Linked DNA regions of Homo sapiens: region 1 is linked to region 2. The links come from fine-mapping of genetic effects on gene expression. A gene starts in region 2. The other region holds a variant in brackets. All regions are shown on one strand. Distances are from middle to middle.

What was found. PIP is the estimated chance that this variant, and not a neighbour inherited with it, causes the effect.
Region 1: its variant is the best candidate, but not a certain one, in a credible set for the expression of RAPSN in whole blood (TOPMed, PIP 0.60).

The regions. Positions count from the first base shown.
Region 1 is chr11:47,581,061-47,586,370 of GRCh38, forward strand. It overlaps NDUFS3 (NADH:ubiquinone oxidoreductase core subunit S3), which reads left to right. Exons shown (of 7, transcript NM_004551.3): 5 at 1,028-1,153; 6 at 1,289-1,408; 7 at 3,254-3,502. The coding sequence ends at 3,421. Among named protein-coding and RNA genes, the nearest start is that of FAM180B, 3.0 kb to the right of the region's middle. The variant C/T (reference allele first, on the strand shown) is at 2,027.
Region 2 is chr11:47,446,130-47,451,499 of GRCh38, forward strand. RAPSN (receptor associated protein of the synapse) reads right to left here and starts at 3,007. Exons shown (of 8, transcript NM_005055.5): 1 at 2,644-3,007; 2 at 1,683-2,021. The coding sequence starts at 2,835. LOC124902673 (a long non-coding RNA gene) reads left to right here. Exons shown (of 2, transcript XR_007062669.1): 2 at 1,198-1,308.

The DNA.
Region 1 (5,310 bases), 130 kb after region 2:
GTTAAACTGGAACTTCAGAGTCAAGTAGATCTGAAGTTGGATCTTGGTTCTGCCACTAAATGGCTGTGGGACCTCAGATAACTCAAATATTTTGTTTAATTTTTTTTTTTTTTAGACGGAATCTTGCTCTGTCGCCAGGCTGGAGTGCAGTGGCATGATCTTGGCTCACTGCAACCTCCGTCTCCCAGGTTCAAGCGATTCCCCTGCCTCAGCCCCTTGAGTAGCTGGGACTACAGGTGCATGCCACCACGCCCGGCTAATTTTTTGTATTTTTTTAGTGAAGACTGGGTTTCACCATGTTGGCCAGGATGGTCTCAATTTCCTGACCTCGTGATCTGCCTGCCTTGGCCTCCCAAAGTGCTGGGATTACAGGCATGAGCCACCATGCCCGGCCCTTGTTTAATCTTTCTGAGCTTTCATTTTCTTACCGGGAAAATAAATATAAAGCTGTCCTTATCTTATAGAATGGTTATAAGGATCCAATGAGATAGTTCAAGTAAATTGCTTGCACACAGTGTTTTCAATACATTTAGCTATTAATATTTTACTGATTATCTACTGTTTGCCAGACTCTGGGATGGAGAGAGAAATAACATGAAGTATTTGTCCTCCAGGAGTCCCCTACACTCTAGTGAAGGAGAAAGACACCTAAACAGCTTACTGTAGTAACATATAATACAAAGGATATTAGAGGGATGCTTTAAGAAAGCAGGAGGGGCACTTGGCCCTGTCTGGGAGGCTTCTTTGAAAAGAGAGAATGTTTGTGCTGAATCTAAAATATGAGTAGGAGACCAGGTAGCCTTGTGAGATGGACCAGGGAAATATTCCTGACAAAGTGAATAGCATGAGCAAACACAGGCATGCTGACATGCTAAGCTACAGCTGTGGCCTGGGCCTTTGGAAGTAGTTGTAAGCATAGGAGAATCTTGAGGTTTTGAGGTTCAGAATAGAAGGCAGGGTCACAGGGCAGAACTCTCCCAATCAGGGACTCCCATCTCAGCCCTCCAGATCCTTCTGTTCTCCCTAGATTGTCTACAACCTGTTGTCTCTGCGCTTCAACTCACGGATCCGTGTGAAGACCTACACAGATGAGCTGACGCCCATTGAGTCTGCTGTCTCTGTGTTCAAGGCAGCCAACTGGTATGAAAGGGAGGTGAGTTACCGGATATGGTGGACCTGCCTCTGGGCCACAGTTGCAGAACTGGTTCAGACTACGGGATGCAGTGTAGCCCCTTCCCCCTGTTGTTAGTCTTGATGGATTGGCTGTTTGAGGTGGTCTCTTTCCTAGATCTGGGACATGTTTGGAGTCTTCTTTGCTAACCACCCTGATCTAAGAAGGATCCTGACAGATTATGGCTTCGAGGGACATCCTTTCCGGAAAGACTTTCCTCTATCTGGCTATGTTGAGGTAGGAGCCTTGGAACTGGGACAGCAGCCTCAGGGAGGGACTTGCAGAGAACCCAGGGGATCCCTGGGAATGGCAAGAAATACGGTCTGTGGATTGTGGTGGTTTAAGAGCATGGGCCCTGGATTCAGATCCTAGCTTCATTTTTGTAACCTGGGGCAAGTTACTTGGTTTGACTGTAACTCAGTTTTCTCATCTTAAAATGGCAATAATAATAGCACTTTAATAGATTTGTGGCTGGCATTAAATAATGTATGTGTAGGCTCACGCCTGTAATCCCAGCACTTTGGGAAGCCAAGACAGGAGGAGTGCTTGAGTCCAGGAGTTCGAGAACAGCCTAGGCAACATGGTGAAACCTCTTCTCTACAAAAAAATAGAAAAATTAACGGGGCATGGTGGTGCATTCCTGTGGTCCTGGCTGCTCAAGAGGCTGAGGTGGGAGGATCGCTTGAGCCTAGAAGGCGGAGGTTGCAGTGAGCCGAGATCACGCCACTGCTCTCCAGCCTGGGCAACAGAGTGAGACCCTGTCTCTAAATAAATAAATGATGTATGAAGCCTGCTGTATTGTAAAGGCTCAATTGATGCTGTGTGTGTGTGTGTGTGTCAGGGTCTCACTCTTGT[C/T]ACCTAGGATGGAGTGCAGTGGTGCGATCATGGCTCACTGCAGTCTTGACCGCCCAGGCTCAAGTAATCCTCCCACCTCTCAGCCCTCCGAGTAGCTGGGACTACAGGCATGCACCAACATGCCCAGCAAATTTTTGTATTTTTTGTAGAGACGGGGTTTCTCCATGTTGCCCAAACTGGTCTCGAATTCCTGGGCTCAAGTCATCTGCCCGCCTCAGCTTCTCAAAAGTGCTGGGATTACAGGTGTGAGCCACCACACCTGGCCAGTGTTATCCATTATTGTAATGATCATTTTAATGATCAAGGCAGCCTTGACGACACAGTCTGTCCCTAAAACCTGAAAGTAGAGGATTATTTTACCCTGCCCTGACTCTCTGGGAAGGCAGTGACGGGGAAGACACCAGATGCTTAGCCCTCAAAAATTACCTCTGAGGTGGGACCAGTAACGTGAATAAAGAATTTCAGTGGTGCTGCAGGTTATTTGCAGGAAGATAGTGTGTAATATTATCACTCGTGAATTTTATAGCAAAGTAACTGTTTAGAAATGCAGAGATGTGGTGCTCCAGCCCTGCTCTTTTAGTTCCCAGTCACTCCTGCTGTGTTAGTGCTTTGCATGCTCCTATTTCCCTCTTGGGCTACTTCTGGGCAGGGCTATCTCCCTCGCTTCTCCCTTTCACCCCACTCCTGCTATCTGCCTCACCTGGTTTGCCTCTTCACTCTAGCACCTGATGATCCTTACCTTATCCATTTGATCCCCAAGTAACAAGAAAAGCTGTGTCAAATGTACTGCTTTAGATCTGGACTGTGAATATGCCAAGGGCACCGGGCCTGAGGTTGTGTATCTGCCAGTTTAGGTTTACTCTTTTCAGCCACCGACTACTCCCTAATCCTGGGCAAATGCTTACCATTACCTTGTAAGAGTGTGTGGGTGGGTGAGCAGTCAGTTCGGAGCTCCTGATGTGGGAGTGGTGAGCAGGGGAATCTGACTGGTGCTGGCAGGGCATGAGAGGTATCCTACATTTTGGAATCACACACTCTAGCTGGTTGGGATGTGATCTGACGGGTAACACAGGTATGGATGGAGACTTACTGACAGAGGCTGGGACAGGAGTCAGTAACCGAGAGGAATGGGCTGGGGAAGTCACCAATAGCCTTGTGAAAAGTAGGCTCCTGTGTAGCTATAATAAGGACTTCCTTAGTGCTCAAGCCTGCCTTTTGCTCCTGCAGTTACGTTATGATGATGAAGTGAAGCGGGTGGTGGCAGAGCCGGTGGAGTTGGCCCAAGAGTTCCGCAAATTTGACCTGAACAGCCCCTGGGAGGCTTTCCCAGTCTATCGCCAACCCCCGGAGAGTCTCAAGCTTGAAGCCGGAGACAAGAAGCCTGATGCCAAGTAGCTCCAGGGAACGCATGTGGATCCTAGACAGCGCCTTATCTATGATTGAGTGTCCGTGTAAATAAATTCCTACTTAGACTTACCACTTTGTGTGTGCTTGTAATGTGGAGAAGTGATGCTTTGGGGGGGACACAGGCAGGCAGGGGTGTTTCCCTGCTCTCTTAGAGAGGCACTACTAAACCAGGGAGTCTTTGATGGGTTTTTTTTTTTTTTTTTGAGACAGTGTTTCGCTCTTGTTGCCGAGGCTGGAGTACAATGGCGTGATCTCGGCTCACCACAACCTCCGCCTCCTGGGTTCAAGTAATTCTCTTGCCTCAGCCTCCCGAGTAGCTGGGATTACAGGTGTGTGCCACCACACCTGGCTAATTTTGTATTTTTAGTAAAGACGGGGTTTCTCCATATTGGTCAGGCTGTTCTTGAACTCCTGACCTCAGGTGATCTGTCTGCTTCGGCCTCCCAAAGTGCTGGAATTATAGGCGTGAGCCACTGTGACCAGCTCTTTTATGTTTTTTTGAGATGGAGTCTCGCTCTGTCACCCAGGCTGGAGTGCAGTGGTGCTGTCGCAGCTCGCTGCAACCTCCACCTCCCAGGCCCAAGCGGTTCTCCCCCCTCAGCCTCCCAAGAAGCTGGGATTACAGATGCACGCCACCACGCCCAGCTAGTTTTTATAGTTTTTGTAGAGATGGGATTTCACCATGTTGCCCAGGCTGGTCTCGAACTCCTGGCCTCAAATGATCCACACTGGCCTCCCAAAGTGCTGGGATTATAGGCGTGAGCCACCACACTCAGCCGGAGGTCTATTTTAATGGGACTAAAGAGTGTAGTTGCAGACGTGGTGGCCTGCAGGCATGGATGTATTTCTGAGAGGGATTCTGGAGCTGTAACTGAAAGTTCTCACAGTCCACAGGGTTCAGGATGGGTGTGGCATGGTAGCCAATCACTCTTGGGCTACAGGAATCTCCCTGGTTTCTGGCCTGAGCTGAGAATGGTGGGGTTCTTTTTTTCTTCTTCTTTTTTTTTTTTTTTTGAGATGGAGTTTTGCTATTGTTGCACAGGCTGGAGTGCAATGGCATGATCTTGGTTCACTGTGACCGCCGCCTCCCGGGTTCAAGCAACTCTGCCTCAGCCTCCCGAGTAGCTGGGATTACAGGCTTGCGCCACCACGCCCGGCCAATTTTGTATTTTTAGTAGAGATGGGGTTTCTCCATGTTGGTCAGGCTGGTCTCAAACTCCCGACCTCAGGTGATCTGCCCGCCTCGGCCTCCCAGAGTGCTGGGATTACAGGCGTGAGCCACCGCGCCAGGCTGGTGGGGGTTTTTTGAGACAGGGTCTTGGTCTGTCACCTAGGCTAGAGTGAGTACAGCAGTGTGATCGTGGTTCACTGCAGTCTAGACTGCCTGGGCTCAGGTGATCCTCCCACCTCAGCCTCCTGAGTAGCTAGGACCACAGGTGTGTACCACCATACCCAGCTAATTTATTTGTAGAGATGAGGGCTCACCATGTTGCCCAGGCTGGTCTTGAACTCCTGGGCTCAAGCCATCCTCCTGTCTTGCCCTCCTAAAGTGCTGGGATTACAGGCATGAGCCACCGTGCCCGCTCTGAATTAAGAATGTTGCTAGGAAACAAGAGGTCCCAGGGCTGGGGCAAAAACCACTCAGGAGCTGCAGATTTGTCTGTCTGCCAGGGGACAATACGCCCTAGCCCAGCTGATCTGTCTGTCCAGCCTGCGGCAGAGTGCCTGAGAGGGGAGTGCTTGGCTCTGCCTGTCTGTGGGGCCGCCCAGCCAGCCCACCATGCAGTTGGAAGACTTTGCAGCTGATGCTTTTGGCAGCTGAGGGGCTCCTTGGAGGCTGGGCTGGGCCAGACTGGGTGTCGGGGCTGGCCTCAGTC
Region 2 (5,370 bases):
GCGACTCAAGCTGCTCTCAAACTCCTGGGCTCAAGCAATCCTTCTGCTTGGCCTCTCAAAGTGCTCAGATTATAGGCATGAGCCTTGCCAAATTAAAAAAAAAAAAAAACTGTTTGTAGACGCTGGTCTGGAACTCCTGGTCTTGAGCGATCCTCACCCCTCAGCTTCTCAAAGTGCTGGGATTACAAGTGTGAGCCACCAGGCCTAGCTTACTTTTCTTCAGAATTAAAAAGGTTTTTAAAAACCCCTGTCCTGCCCCAGTCCTATCTCATCTCACTGAATGGCTCCCCCTTACATCTGCTTCCTAAAAACAAAGTCCTGGCTGTCATCCTTGGTGACTCGTTTCCTCCCATCCCACCTTGGATCCATCAGCATTTATCCACTCACTAACTCCAAGATTTATTAAGCATCTACTGGGGCCAGGCATTAAATCCCCCATGGACCAAGCACAGCACAGATACCTGAGGGGAAAGGGAACAAAAATACCCAGGGTTGGCCGGGTGCGGTGGCTCACGCCTGTAATCCCAGCACTTTGGGAGGCCAAGACGGGCGGATCCCTGAGGTCAGGAGTTCAAGACCAGCCTGGCCAACATGGTGAAACCCCATTTCTACTAAAAACACAAAAATTAGCCGGGCGTGGTGGTATACGCCTGTAGTCCCAGCTACTTGGGAGGCTGGGGCAGGAGAATCGCTTGAACCCAGGAGGCGGAGGTTGCAGTGAGCCGAGATGGCACCACTGCACTCCAGCCTGGGTGACAAGAGCAAAACTCCGCCCCTGCCCCCGCCAAAAAATACCCAGGATCAGAACCTGCTGTGGCTGATCCTATCAGTTCCTTCACAGTTGGCCCTCCTCCTCTCACCTCCCTACCTCCGCACACACCTGAGACACGCCTGGCAGCCATGCTGGCCTCTGTCCTTCCTGGAACATTCCAGGAAACATTCCAGGATGCTCCCCCAGGGTCCAGCTTGGCTTTAGGGGCTCGCCCATTTTTGCCTAGAATGCTCTCTCACCAGATTTTTGCATGGCACACCCTCTCTTCTTCAAGCCATCAAACATCACCTCTGCGAGGCCCTCCGACCACTATATTTGAAATTATGACACCCCCACGCCCAGTGCTGCCAGCCCTTTGCCCCGCTTCGCTTTCTCCTAACCACTTGACTTCCTGACTGTGTTGATCGTCTTTCTTCTCCAACTAGAATGCAACCCTCGTGAGGACGGGGACTTGGCTGTTTTTCTCACTGCTACACCCTGGGTCAACAGTCTTGGGATACAGTAGCTGGTCAATAAATATTTGATGACTGACTCCATACAACCCCACTGTAAGGTGAGTCCTATTCTCCTTCATTTTACAGATCTCTCCCAAGGTTCAGAGAGGATAGGTGACTTGCCCAAGACCACACAGCAAACATGGCAGTGCAGGCCGCTGGCCTGTCCTCACAGAGGAGCCTCCCATTATTCCTCCAGGAAGTCACACAGATCAAGGTTTGAATCCTGGCTCTGCCCTTGCTGGCTTCCTGGCCAAGTTGTTACCTTCCTGGATAAGCCTTTTTGCTCTCTGATTCTCACTCTCCTCAGCCCTCCCTAAAAGGAGGGCTGAATGAGGTAGTGCCACAGGGTGTGTGCCTCATGAGAGGGGAGCCCCAAAACCCTCCACTGCTGTCCCCCTGGGGTGCAGGCCCACCTTGACCTGGGCATAGAAGCTGCCCAGGCTGCAGCACACGCGGCACTCGAGCATGGCGTCATCATTGTTGTGGGCATAGCGCAGGGCCTTCTCGAAGCTCTCCAGGGCCTTCTGGAAGACGCTGAGGCCCAGGAAGGCATTGCCCATGCTCAGGCTGACCTGGCCTCCGAGCTGGGCACCTGCCCTGGTACCAGGCAGCCCAAGGCAGGTCTTGCAGTAGGAGATGGTCTTGTGAAACTCGCACAGCTTCTCGTTGCTGCGTGCCAGGTTCAGGTAGCTCTCCAGGAGGAAGTCGGCATCCTCCAGCTCCCGGGCCGTGTCGATCTGGACCACAGCGAACTGCACACAGCGACGGTGGGCAGGTGGTGCTCAGCCTGGACTCTGAGCCTTGGACCCCAGCCTGCACTGCAGGCTCAGACCTGGAGGCCCCACACCCACCCCCCAGCCTCACACCCAAAGCAGCAGATCCCAAAGCTTCTTTTCAGACCCAGAGCTTCTACCCGCCAGCCTCAGCTACCTTCCCTACACCCCAGCCTCACCTCCCAAGCTCAGGCTTGCAGCCTTCACCTTCTATCCCAAGCCTCAGATCTGGAGTCTCCACCACCCACCCACCCCCAGCCGCAACCCTGGAGCCCACACCCCGCCAGGCTCAGACACAGAACACCAGACAGGAAGGCTGAAACCTACAATGGGCTTGAGACCCACAAACCCTCGACCCTGAGGCTGGAGAACCTCAGTCTCAGAGACTCGGGCACCACAGTTCAAGGCCACAGGCCTGAATCTGATGCCAAGACTCAGTATCTAAGACCCAGGGCCTTAGATATAAATTCAGAGCCTCGGGCCCTGGCTGCCAGCCTGTGGGACACAGGGGAGCCCGAGGAGGCCGAGAGGGGACTGGGGAGCCTGGGAGACATCCGGCCCCAGCCTGACCCTCGAACGCCCCCAGGCCGGGTACACCCACCTTCAGCATCTCCTTGTAGCGGCCCATCTCCGAGTGGGCTGTGACCAGGCAGCCCAGCACGCGGAAGCGCCCCATGAGGTCCGAGCTCTTCTCCAGCACCTTTGTCCACACCTGCAATGCCTTCTCTGTCTGGTTGGACTGGTACAGCTGGAGCCCCTTCTCGATCTGCTGCTTGGTCTGGTCCTGCCCCATCCTCCCCAAGCCCTGTGTCCCACGTGGGGTGATCCCTGGTGGCTCCGTGCCTCTAGGCACTCATGGGGCAGGAATCACAGTGCCAGCTGCCCCCCGAAACGTGGGAACAAAAGCAGCGTCGGGTGGGAGCCGGAATGGGGCCTGGATGGAGAGCAGGCGCCACCCTGGGAACAAAGCTGGTTCAGCCCGTCTGCAGCTGTCGCTGCCAGTTGGGGCCACATGGCCTCTGAGGAATGTCAGCAGCAAGGTCACGTGGGCCTCTGCTGCACCCACCCGCGAGCTGGGACGTGGCTTCCCTGAGCATACAGGCACCTTGCCACCTGGGCACCCCCTTGGGCGTCCCTTAGGCACCTCTGACACTGACCCTGACCGCCCTGGCAGCACGGGCCCTCCCAGCAGCCTTGCCAAGGGGCCAGCTCCAGCAAGTGGGCAGGCCTTGGGCTAGAGGTGCTCGGGGGAAGGAGAGCGAGGCTGGACCTGCAGGTCCGGGGAAGCCAGGTGAGCGCCCAGCCCTGCTTCTTCCCCATCAAGACACCCCTGACCGCAGCATCCCCTGGCTCTGTTCCTGAAATTCACTGAGCACCGTGGGTCACTCATCCAGGCCCAGGCTGACACCATTCACCAACTCTCACCTTAGAGAGTCTGGGAAAGACCTCCAGCTGGTGAGAGGCCTGAGCTCTAGCCTGGCTTCCTTCGAACTCTCAGTGGGACCCTAGCCAAGTGACCTGGCACCGTGGACTGAAGAGAGGAATGGTACCTGGCTCACTGGACTGCTATGAGAACTCAATGACGAAAGAGTTGAGAAGGACTTAGGACAGTGCCCGGCACAGGAAACCCCGCATGTGCTGCAAGAGGCTATTTTGCTCCATGGCAAATCCCCACCCGGGCCAGAACCCAGCCCTTGAAGTTTCAATGTCTCACTTCCAATCCCAACCCCGGGCTGAAAGGGTCCTCATAATGAGATTTAACACCAGATACTGTGGAGAAGGGCAAGGTCTTATGTAGTATTGGGGCCCCCGCTAGCAGGCCAGCTCATCCAGCCCCCCTTTCTCCTCTCTCTGCATGCCAGCCTTCTTCCTGCCCCAGGGCAAAAGTTTATCCTTTCTGGCTGGGCAATTCAGTGGTTTTTAGTATATTCACAGAGATGCACATTAATTGCCACTAATTCCAGAACATTTTAACCACCCCAAAAAGGAGACGCACACCCATCAGCAGTTACACCACTCCATTCCCCACCTTGATATGACTGAATCATGTCCCCCCGCAACCAAACGCATATGTTTAAGTCCTAACACTCAGTATCTCATAAGGTGACTGTCTTTGGAGACAGGGTCTTTAAAGGGTGATTAAGGTAAAATGAAGTCACATTGTACCTCATCCAGTTAAGACTGGTATCCCCCCCCCCTTTTTTTTGAGACAGGGTCTCACTCTGTCACCTAGGCTGGAGTGCAGTGGTGCAGTCACAGCTCACTGCAACCTCTACCTCCTAGGCTCAAGTGACCCTCCCACCTCAGTCTCCTGGGTAGCTGAGACCACAGCTGTCTAGTTTTTGTAGAGATGGGTTTCACCATGTTGCCCAGGCTGGTCTTGAACTCCTGGAGGTGGAGGTTTCAGTGAGCCGTGATTGTGCCACTGCACTCCAGCCTGAGCACCAGAGCAAGACCTTGTCTCAAAAAATAAATAAACAATAAATTTTTATTTTTAAAAATTATTTTTGAGACGGAGTTTTGCTCTTGTTGCATAGGCTGGAGTGCAGTGGCACAATCTCAGCTCACTGAGACTTCTACCTCCCGGGTTCAAGCAATTCTCCTGCCTCAGCCTCCCAAGTAGCTGGGATGACAGGTGTATGCCACCACGCCTGGCTAAGTTTTTGTATTTAGTAGAGACGGGGTTTCACCATGTTGGTCAGGCTGGTCTTGAACTTCTGACCTCAGTTGATCCACCTGCCTCAGAGCCTCCCGAAGTATTGGGGTTATAGGCGTGAGCCACCATGCCTGACCACAATACTTTTTTTTTTTTTTGAGACACTTTCCCTCTGTCACCCAGGCTGGAGTGTGGTGGTGCCATCTTGGCTCACTGCAACCTTCACCTCCCAGGTTCAAGTGATTCTCCTGCCTCAGCCTCCTGAGTAGCTGGGATTACAGCTGCGCACCACCACACCTGGCTAATTTTTGTATTTTTAGTAGAGACGGGGTTTCACCATGTTGGTCAGGCTGGTCTGGAACTCCTGACTTCATGATCTGCCCACCTCTGCCTCCCAAAGTGTTGGGATTACAGGCGTGAGCCCCCGCACCTGGCCCACAATAAATGTTTAAAAAGGACACAGTCACACAGAAGAAGAGCACGTGAAGACACAGGGAGAAGATGGCTATCTACAAGCCCAGGAGCAAGGCCTTAGAATGAAACCAACTCTGCCAATTCCTTGATCTTGGACTTCTAGCGTCCAGAACTGTGAGAAAATAAATTTCTGTTATTTAAGCCACCTGGTGTCTATGGACCTGTCTATTGTGGACCCTTCACAGGAATGGAATCATA